Linked DNA regions of Homo sapiens: region 1 is linked to region 2. The links come from fine-mapping of genetic effects on plasma protein levels. A gene starts in region 2. The other region holds a variant in brackets. All regions are shown on one strand. Distances are from middle to middle.

What was found. PIP is the chance, under the fine-mapping model, that this variant and not a neighbour inherited with it causes the effect. The UK Biobank Pharma Proteomics Project read protein levels with antibody pairs (Olink). The fine-mapping took linkage between variants from a reference panel, not from the people measured, so its PIPs are less certain.
Region 1: its variant is fine-mapped to the plasma level of the FAM13A protein (UK Biobank, PIP above 0.99).

What each region holds. Positions count from the first base shown.
Region 1 is chr4:88,908,120-88,913,505 of GRCh38, forward strand. The region is part of intron 5 of FAM13A (family with sequence similarity 13 member A); the gene reads right to left. Among named protein-coding and RNA genes, the nearest start is that of FAM13A, 150 kb to the right of the region's middle. The variant A/T (reference allele first, on the strand shown) is at 2,428.
Region 2 is chr4:89,054,502-89,059,887 of GRCh38, forward strand. FAM13A (family with sequence similarity 13 member A) reads right to left here and starts at 2,684. Exons shown (of 24, transcript NM_014883.4): 1 at 2,437-2,684. The coding sequence starts at 2,463. RefSeq lists an enhancer at 1,985-2,547.

The sequences.
Region 1 (5,386 bases), 150 kb before region 2:
AGGGTACATTTCAGAGATCCCTAAATAAGTGTGCATTCCAGTCTTACCCTTTCCCACTAGTTACAGCACCTGCTGGTGGTAAGCTGCTTTCTGGAAATAGTGAATGAACCCATTCCCGCTTCTGACTCACTGTGAGAGGGATAAACTATATCCAGCATGACATTTAGGAGAGCCAACTGCATAATACATTGCATAATTTGACTATGCTTGGATAACACAATTATGCTTTATGCTTGTACCTGTTTTTTAAAACTACTGGTATGTAAATGCTAGAATATGATGAAAAGAAACAAGGCTGACTGTTAAGGGAAATTAGTAGAAATGTCTGACTGTTGTCTATGACTGTCTGAGTGTTTACAAATGCCTATAATTCTTTCTTCCTTATGCAAAAAACAGAAGTGACAGTATTTCTTTATTCTATTTTCCAGCCCTGTCTCTGTGAATTAATGGGCACAAGGCTGACAGTCAACTTTTTCCTATAAGACTCTGAAAGCATTTTTTCTAAACTTCTATTTGCAAATGTCACCTACATGAATTATATTTACTTTTTGTTTTATGACTTTAAACTTAGACAATACAGACAAAGTAAAGTTTAGCAGTCTGAGAATGAACTGGCAGATAAGAGATCTAGCTCAAGGAAGAAGTAGTATTTATTGATGAAAAGACAAGCCAGCACCCGTTCAGAGTTGCGTTCCCAGTGCCCCATCAGAATGGTACTGAAACAGCAGCTCCCACCCTTGCAGCAAGCAGCGAGCAAGGGGGCTGCAGAGCCACAGGACACAGGTAACACCTTCCTATAAGGCCCATGGTACTTAGATTTCTGGAGAAAAGTTAAATAATTCAACTAGTAACCTAAGCAAATAACTGGTGATAACTTAATGTATTCTTTTAAAATATATATTATGCAGTTAAGTATGAAATAGTAAGATAAAACATTTTCTAAATCTTTATAAAGCCATTTATATTTGTACATATGTATCTGAGAAAGTTGAAAATTTATGTCCACAGCAAAAATATCAACACAAATGCAAATAGTAGAATTATTCATAATAGCCTAAAAGTGGTGACAATCCAAATGCCCATTAATTGATGAATGGATAAACAAGACATGGTATAGTCACATAATAGAATATTCTTCGGCTATAAAAAGGAATAAAGTACTGACACCTGCTACAACATGAATGAACCTTGAAAACATGCTAAGTGAAATAATACAGACACAAAAGGATATATATTGTGTGATTCCACTTATATGAAATGTCCAGAATAGGCAAATACTTAGTGACAGAAAGTAGATTGGTTATTGCCAGGGGTTGGGAGGAGTGGGGAATGTGGAGTGACTGCTAATGGGTCTGATGTACATGAGGTTTTTTATTTTTTTTTTTTGAGATGGAGTCTCGCTCTGTTGCCAGGCTGGAGTGCAGTGGCGTGATCTTGGCTCACTGCAACCTCCGCCTCCCAGGTTCAAGCGATTCTCCTGTCTCAGCCTCTGGAGTAGCTGGGACTACAGGTGTGCACCACCATGCCCAGCTAATTTTTGTATTTTTAGTAGAGATGAGGTTTCTCCATGTTGGCCAGGATGGTCTCTATCTCTTGACCTTGTGATCCGCCCACCCTGGCCTCCCAAAGTGCTGGGATTACAGAAGTGAGCCACCGTACCCAGCTGAGGTTTCTTTTTAGGGTGATAAAAATATTCTGGAATTAGGTAATGGTGATGATTGCACAGTTTTGTGAACACACACAAAGCCATAGATTGTATACTTTATAAGAGTGAATTTCAATGGTATGTGAATTATATCTAAATTTTTTACAAAGCCATGTAAAGAACGTTCCCACATTCTCAAGGTAAGAGACCTCGGGTTTGTGTTCAAACTCTTCCTTTAGAAGAACTTTTTAGAAAAAGTTTGGAGGGGGATGTTGTGTTTCTAAGTGTTAAATTGTATGTAGGCATGAAAATTTATTCAACAAATATCAACTGAATCTTATTACTAGTTGGAATGGGTGTTATTCCAATGCTGGGCACTGGAGAACGAAGTGTCAAACTGGACATTAATAGATCACATACGGCATATTTATACTTATTTTAAACATTTGATCTACTTACATGAGACTTTTGACTGAACCAATTGCTTACTTTAATGACCTTTGCACAACACCTACTTGCTTAAACCAGCTGTGTCATGGTATCATGAGAACACCAGTTAAAAATACAATAAGGAAGGAAAAAAATACCTTATCATGGTTTCTTTTGCCTTACTATTCAACTACTAATGACATTTAAAAATAGGAAAGCACTCACTGTCCCCTCAGCCTTGCACACTACTTCCACAGCTCTTTTAAGGTTTGGTCCCTTGTTTCATTCAGGTCTTTGCTCAATTTCACTGGAGCAGGTTATCTTCCCAGGATGCCACCTGGGAAGGGATATTA[A/T]TCACTACCTCCCTCCTCTTCCACTTGTTTCTCTCTATCCCCTACCCTATTTTATGTTTCCCCATAGCCCTTAGAAATATCCAACCTTAAACTTACTGGTTTTAATTCTTTTTTTTTTTTTTGAGATGGAGTCTCGCTCTGTCACCAGGTTGGAGTGCAGTGGTGCCATCTCAGCTCACTGCAACTTCTGCCTCCTGGGTTCAAGCGATTCTCCTGCCTCAGCCTCCTGAGTAGCTGGGACTACAGGCACGCGTCACCATGCCCAGCTAATTTCTGTATTTTTAGTAGAGACGGGGTTTCACCACGTTGGCCAGGATGGTCTCAATCTCTTGACCTCGTGATCTGCCCGCCTCAGCCTCCCAAAGTGCTGGGATTACAGGCGTGAGCCACCACGCCCAGCTGCTTTTAATTCTTTATTGTCCATCTCACCCTACTCTGTGAGAGGACTTGGTCAGTCTTCTTCATAAATACATTATATCCACAGAGCCTACAACTAGGTTTGGCACATAGTAGGAGCTCAATTGTTGAGTGACTGAGTAAACTGAATGAATAAAATCCCCTTCCAAGCCCCTTGTGCATTCCTCCTGCTTTTAGTCCCTTCTTAATTCCCTTCTTAAATTCCCTTTATGATCCTTCGTTCTCTTGCTAATACCCTTAATTTCTTTCCTCCAGTCTCCAATCATTGCATTCACCTCACAAAAGTACAATGTTGGATGAATCCAGCTATATGCTTTCTCTGTGCTGAGAACGGAGCAGCTCAAAGTGGCTGGAAAAAGTTACAGAATTGGTTGATTGGTTTCACATTAAATTTATGACCAAAAACTTTGGATGGGCCCTCCCTCATGTACAGCAATTCTGCTATACTTCTTGCGTAACTTGATTTTCCACTTTCCAAGATGATATTTCTTGTCTTTCCCTCTCTTCTCAAACCCCTTTCTTTCCATTCTTGCTTAATACCTCTTTGGAAAAACAGAAACATCGGAGCAGAAGCTAGTCATTGCCACACCATCAAATCTACAAACCTAGCTGAAATCATTCAATCCTCTCTGCCTTCCCTGTTGTTGCAATGAGAGATAAGACTGGTTGTATCAAAGAGCAATTCCCTCCATATGCACAGTGGATCTCATCTCCTTTCATCTCCCCAAAGGCTGCTCCTTCAACGGTCTCCTGTCACTCCCTTCCCCACTGTGACCATTCCCATCAATCACAAGCATGCTCTGCAGTCATATCTTCTCATTTTTGTTTGTTTATTTTTAAAAGATACTTCCTTAATCCTACATCTCCCATTAGCTATGGTCCTACTTGCTTCCCTTCATAGCAAATTCCTTTAAAACAGCCATCTTCACTCACTTTCTCTACTTCCTCACCTCCAATTCATTCTTCAATGCCCTAAGATGTGGTCTTTGTCTCACTATTTCACAGAATCTGCCAAAACAGTCACAGCTCAGCCTCCGTCTTACTCTTGTTCTTAGTAACATTTAAAGAAGGTAACTATTCTTGAATTACTGTCTTCTCTTAGCTTCCATGACATCACTGGTAGGTGGCTTTTGATGGTTAAATTTAGGTGTCAACTTGACTAAATGAAGAGATGTCCAAAGAGTTGGCAAAACATTATTTCTGGGTATGTCTGTGAGGGTGTTCTGGAAGAGGCTGGTATTTGAATCAATGGGCTGAGTAAGGAAGATCCACTCTCACCAAATGTTGCAGGCACCATCCAATTGGCTGAGGACATATAGAGAACAAAAAGGCAGAGGAAAGGTGAATTTGATGTCTCTCCTAGAGCTGGGGCACCCATCTTCCCCTGCTCTTGGACATTAAAACTCCAGGTTCTGCAGCCTTTGGACTTTGGACTTGCACCATCAGCTTCCCAGCCACTCAAGACTTCGGATTTAGACTGAGCCATGCTACCAGCTTCCCTGATTCACCAGAGCTTGCAAACAGCATATTATAGAGCTCTTCAGCCTCCAAAATCATGTGAGCCAAACCCCATAATAAATCACCTCTCTCTTTACACACATACATACACACACACACACACACACACACACACACACACACCTCCTATTGGTTTTCTCTGGAAAACCTTGAACATATACAGGAGGAAAACATTTTCCTACTCACCCAGACCAACTCCATACAGTTGGCTGCTGCTCCTCCTCTATACAACAAAGTTACAGTTACATATCTATTGGTTATTGGTTTATTTTCTGAATCCTCTACTAAAGAGAAGTCTAAGCCTGGGCAACCTAGTGAGACTCTGTCTCTACAAAAACAACAAAATAAAATTAGGCAGGCATGGTGGCACATTCCTGTGGTCCTAGATACTCAGGAGGCTGAGGCAGGAGGACCTATTGAGCCCAAGAGGTCCAGCCTGCAGTGAGCTGTGATCACACCACTGCACTCCAGCCAGGGTGACAGAGCAAGACAGAAGAAAGAAGAAAGAAGAAGAAAGAAGGAAGAAGAGGAGGAGGAGGAGGAAGAAGAAGAAGAAGAAGTAGTAGAAGTAGTAGTAGAGAGAAGGAACAAGAGGAGGAGGAAGAAGAAGAAGAGGAGGAGGAGGAAGAGGAAGAGGAAGAAGAACAGGAGGAAGAGGAAGAGGAAGAAGAGGAGGAGGAGGAAGAAGAAGAGGAAGAAGTGGAGGAGGAAGAGGAAGAGGAAGAAGAACAGGAGGAAGAGGAAGAGGAAGAAGAGGAGGAGGAGGAAGAAGAAGAGGAAGAAGTGGAGGAGGAAGAGGAAGAGGAAGAAGAACAGGAGGAAGAGGAAGAGGAAGAAGAGGAGGAGGAAGAAGAAGAAGAGGAAGAAGAGGAGGAAGAAGAGAAGAGGAAGAAGAGGAGGAGGAGGAGGAAGACAAAGAAGAAGAAGTAGTAGAAGTAGTAGTAGAGGGAAGAGGGAAGAAGAGGAGGAGGAAGAAGAAGAAGAGGAGGAGGAGGAAGAGGAAGAAGAAGAGGAGGAAGAGGAA
Region 2 (5,386 bases):
CAGAAATAAGCCTCAGAACCAAGGTCTCTCTCTGCCTTTCCACTCTCCTGCCCTCCCTCAGTCTCTCTTTTTCTTTCCTAAAGCACTGAGAGTGACTCTCTCTGGAATTTCCTTATCTGATTAAGGAAGCTTCTTTCCAAAAGAAATGCAATTGTCTTAAGATCTACTTCCTGAGAATCTCATCAAATAACCATGAAAAATTAACCATCAGAAAAGAGACTAAAAGCTGTCACCATATCCACACTGACTTTTCATCTATTCTTCTGAGGACAGCTCCAAGAGATTGGCTGGGAGACTTTATCTGCATAAAAACACAACCTTCATTCCACCCCTCACCTTTCCACCACCTCACCATAGCTCAGGGAAACGCTGTCCCAGGCCATGCTCTTTGAACCCATTCATTCACTTTAAAAATTATTTACTACCTCTCTAAAATTACCTGCAGCTCCCTACTTCTCTCTTCCCCAAAAAGAAGGCATTTAAGCTTCAACCACCTGGCCCTTCTTTGAATCTCATATTTGAGGGGCTCTCATATCCATATACATATTAATAAATTTGTAACTCTTTTTCTCCTATTAATCTATTGCCAATTGTTTCAATAAAATTGCAGAAAGGGCAGAGGAAAAGCTTTCTCTTCACTCCTACACAAAGTAAAAAGTAGTGTATCAGCTCATTGAATGTATTAATGTGTGACTTAGTTCTCCCTTTTTTGTCACGATGTTTAAAATTTTTTTTGTTGTTCTCCAAAAGCTATCTTTTTCCAGATATGCTATGGTACAACTGTTGAAAATGTATTTCCTCCTACAGTAAAACCAAGACAGCACAATCAAAGGCCAACCTTAAGGAGAAGGGTAGAAATGATTGAGAATTACTCATCTACCAGAGTGAATAATCTCTTACACTGTGTGATTTTTATGTCAACTTTAACTGAAATTTTATACATGCTTTGGATATAAATTAAGGGAAAATATAAAGTTTTATACATGAGTCAGTGTGCATTCCAGTCAAGGTAGAGATCAATATATTGCAGGTCAAGGGAAAGAAGTAAAGATCTAATCAGACAATCAGAGATGACTACCAATCTTCATGACCTATCTGCTGCCTCATTCTACACATTTTCAGTTCTGTATTGTTTCTTTTATAAAGCTAGAAAAATAGAAGGGCCACCTCTGCAGTAAAGTAAAAGTCAGTATTTTACACATAGATAAATCAGATTTTGAAGGAAACTCTTTGGGGTGATAAAAAAAGAATAACCACATGGATACCTGGATGCTACTAAGCCTCAGAGTTAAAAGGAAGACAGAGTGACATACATGGTGCTGAAAAGTTTTGAGCCTGGAAACAAGGTCATCCTGCAGTTTCACTAAGAAAACTTAATCTATAGGGCTGGTCTACCATTTGGTGACCATTTGGTGACCATTTGGTGTCTGTGTGTCAAAAATTGCTCAGATATTTCTAAACACTTCAGAATGCCATCAGAAGCTACAGCAAATTGCAGCTCTTTCTGAAACACACACAAAAAAAGAGGATCTGGCCTGAGTGTGATTTTTTAAGTGAGCAGTTAAGGTGATAATAAGGAAGAAGATATTTCTCATTTAATACATTCTAGAAAATAAAATGTCCCTATGGAATACAATAGCAACTTGAAACATAAATATGTGTAATTCTCATACAGATATATGCATTTTCTATATAGTACAATCAAAATTTAAATTACAGCATTCTGCAAATTATATAATTGACAATTTTTGATTATTACAAAAGGTTTTGTACAAGCACCAGCAGAATAATTTAGAAATTCATAAATTCTAAAAATTCTAAAACTCCAGAAATATGCACATTTTCCCAAGGATTTTATTTCAGTGTTATTTATTAATGCTACTGTGTTATAACAACCATTCATTTCTACAGTTTAAGGATACACAAACATTTATCAACTGAGCTTCTCCACCATCACTTTCAGCAATCATGCTGAAACAGAAACTCCAGAATTACTAAACGAAAATAGAAATATAAAACAGAAAAATGTCACACACATACTCAAAAGTAATAAATTAATGGTTACTTCAATTCCTCCTCAAGCTAGCCACAAGATTTCTCTAATAGCTATAATGAAGCATTCATGTTTAACTATTCAGGGACAAGAAAGTCTAAAATGCTTGAAAGTGCTCTACTTTAAATCAAGTTGACTTAACGGAATAAATCAGCATGCATCTTTCACCTTTTTTGGAAACTAAAGTGCACAAATATGCTGAATGCCATCCCAAATCCTGCCTAATACCCATTTAAGTAGATAGGAATTTAAGTAACAAATCTTTCCCCACCTCCTGGGAAGGAAAAATAAGTTACACAAACATCTCATCAAAACAAGGAAGGCAAGGCCCTCTCCTAAAAACTGGCAGTAAACACAGAAGACAGAAGAAGGCCTATACTTACACAGATGGCTAGAGCTCCTGCCCCCATTCTCTCAGAAAGCGTCTGGAAGAACTGAGGAAGACCAGACGAAAATATTAAAACGACAGCAAAATACTAAAATTCCATTCAGCACATATTCTTTGATGTGAAAAACAGCTCCCAATGCAAAGGCCCCAAGGTAAGCGAAGAGCAGCTTCTAACATTTTAGGAAGAGTGGTTTTGCTTCTCTTTCCGCTGAACCCACATGGCTGGAAGGACTGCCTGGAGTTGAAATTTGATCCACAGCCTCAGTGCTGGCAAGTAGAGGGAGTCACGTGACACGGGTCTTAAGTCGCTGACATCTTTTTTTCAAACCTGACTCCCTAGATCCTACACACAGGCTTCTTTGACTCCGAAAACTGCCAGTCACCTGGTGGCTTTCATTAATAGAACCAACAGTGCATAAAGTGAAAACACAGACTTGCTTCCCAGATTCCACACAGCTCTAAGCAAAATGTACGTATTCAGACTCAGGTTTAAAACTGCAGGCACATTATTCATTTTTTCTGAGGCAGTTTTCTCTTCTACTCTTCCTTAGAAACCAGCTAAATTCTACCAAAATTTTCTTCCTTCCATGCTACCCCATCAGAATTGTTTTAAATGAAAATGCTCTATTTTATGTAGCCGTTACTACTTCTAATTATGTATGAGTTGTCTTATAAAAATATACTGATGATAAACATAAACAACATACTTCTAGACAACCATAATTCTACATATGTGATTTGCAGTCTGAAAAATTAGCTAACTGACTTTTCAATAACTTTCTCTTCCACATGCTGTCACTAGAAAATTTGATAGATTTTAAAATTTACAAATATTTGAACTAATAGCTAAAATAGCCACTTCAGGTAAGCCAAAAGGAAACTATCCTATTTTTATTTTTGTTACCATTTTTTCTGTCAATTTGTTTTTCTTTTTTCTTTTGCTGTACCTATTGACCCATCCTCTAAGTTCTCTCCCCTCACCCCCAACCTCCCAACAGGCCCTGATGTGTGTTGTTTCCCCTTTGTGTCCATGTGTTCTCAATGTTCAACTCCCACTTATGAGTGAGAACATGTGGTGTCTGGTTTTCTGTTCCTGTGGTAGTTTGCTGAGGATGACGGCTTCTAGCTTCATACATGTCCATGCAAAAGACATGATCTTGTTCCTTATTATGGCTGCATAGTATTCCATGGTGTATATGTACCACATTTTCTTTATCCAGTCTATCATTGATGGGCATTTGAGTGGGTTCCATGTCTTTGCTATTGTAAACAGTGCTGCGATAAACATATGTGTGTATGTGTCTTTATAGCAGAATGATTTATACTCCTTTGGGTATATACCCAGTAATGGGACTGCTGGGTCAAATGGTATTTCTGGTTCTAGATCCTTGAGGAATCTCCATACTGTCTTCCACAATGGTTGAACTAATTACATTCCCACGGACAGTGTAAAAGCGTTCCTATTTCTCCACATCCTCTCTAGCATCTGTTGTTTCCTGACTTCTCAATAATTGCCATTCTAACTGGCTCGAGATAGTATCTCATTGTGGTTTTGATTTGCATTTCTCTGATGATCAGTGATGGTGAGCTTTTCTTCATAGGTTTGTTGGCTACATAAATGTCTTCTTTTGAGAAGTGTCTGTTCATATCCTTTGCCCACTTTTTGATGGGGTAGTTTGTCTTTTTCCTGTAAATTTGTTTAAGTTCCTTATGGATTCTGGATATGAGACCTTTGTCAGATGCATAGTTTGCAAATATTTTCTCCCATTCTGTAGGCTGCTTGTTCACTCTGATGATAGTTTCTTTTGCTGTGCAAAAGCTCTTTAGTTTAATTAGATCCCATTTGTCAATTTTGGCTTCTGTTGCCATTGCTTTTGGCATTTTTGTCTCTGCCCATGCCTATGCCCTGAATGGTATTGCCTAGGTTTTCTTCTAGGGTTTTTATAGTTTTGGGTTTTACATTTAAGTCTTTAATCCATCTTGAGATAATTTTTGTATAAGGTCTAAGGAAGGGGTCCAGTTTCAGTTTTTTGCATATAACTAGCCAGTTTTCCCAGGACCATTTACTGAATGGGAGATCATTTTCCCATTGCTTGTTTTTTGTCAGATTTGACGAAGATTAGATTGTTGTAGACATGTGGTGTTATTTCTGAGGTCTCCGTTCTGCTCCATTGGTCTGTATGTCTGTTTTGGTACCAGTACTGTGCTGTTTTGGTTACTGTAGCCTTGTAGTATAGTTTGAAGTCAGGTAGCATGATGCCTCCTGCTTTGTTCTTTTTGCTTAGGATTGTCTTGTCTATATGGGGTCTTCTTTGATTCTGGATGAAATTTAAAATAGTTTTTCTAATTCTGTGAAGAATGTCAATGGTAGTTTGATGGGAATAGCATTGAATCTATAGATTACTTTGGGCAGTAGGGCCATTTTCATGATCATGATTCTTCCTATCCACGAGGATAGAATGTTTTTCCATTTGTTTGTGTTCTCTCTTATATCCTTGAGCAGTGGTTTGTAGTTCTCCTTGAAGAGGTCCTTCACATCCCTTGATAGCTGTATACCTATGTATTTTATTCTCTTTGTAGCGATTGTGAATGGGAGTTCATTCATGATTTGCCTCTCTGCTTGCCTATTGTTGGTGTAAATGAATGCTTGTGATTTTTATACATTGATTTTGTATCCTGAGACCTTGCTGAAGTTCCTTATCAGTTCAAGAAGTTTTGGGGCTGAGATGATGGGGCTTCCTAAATATAAAATCAAGTCGTCTGCAAACAGAGATAACTTGATTTCTTCTCTTCCTATTTGAATACCCTTTATTTCTTTCTCTTGTTTGATTGCCTTGGCCAGAACTTCCAATACTATGTTGAATACAAGTGGTGAGAGAGGGCATCCTTGTCTTGTACCAGTTTTCAAAGGGAATGCTTCCAGCTTTTGCCCATTCAATATGATA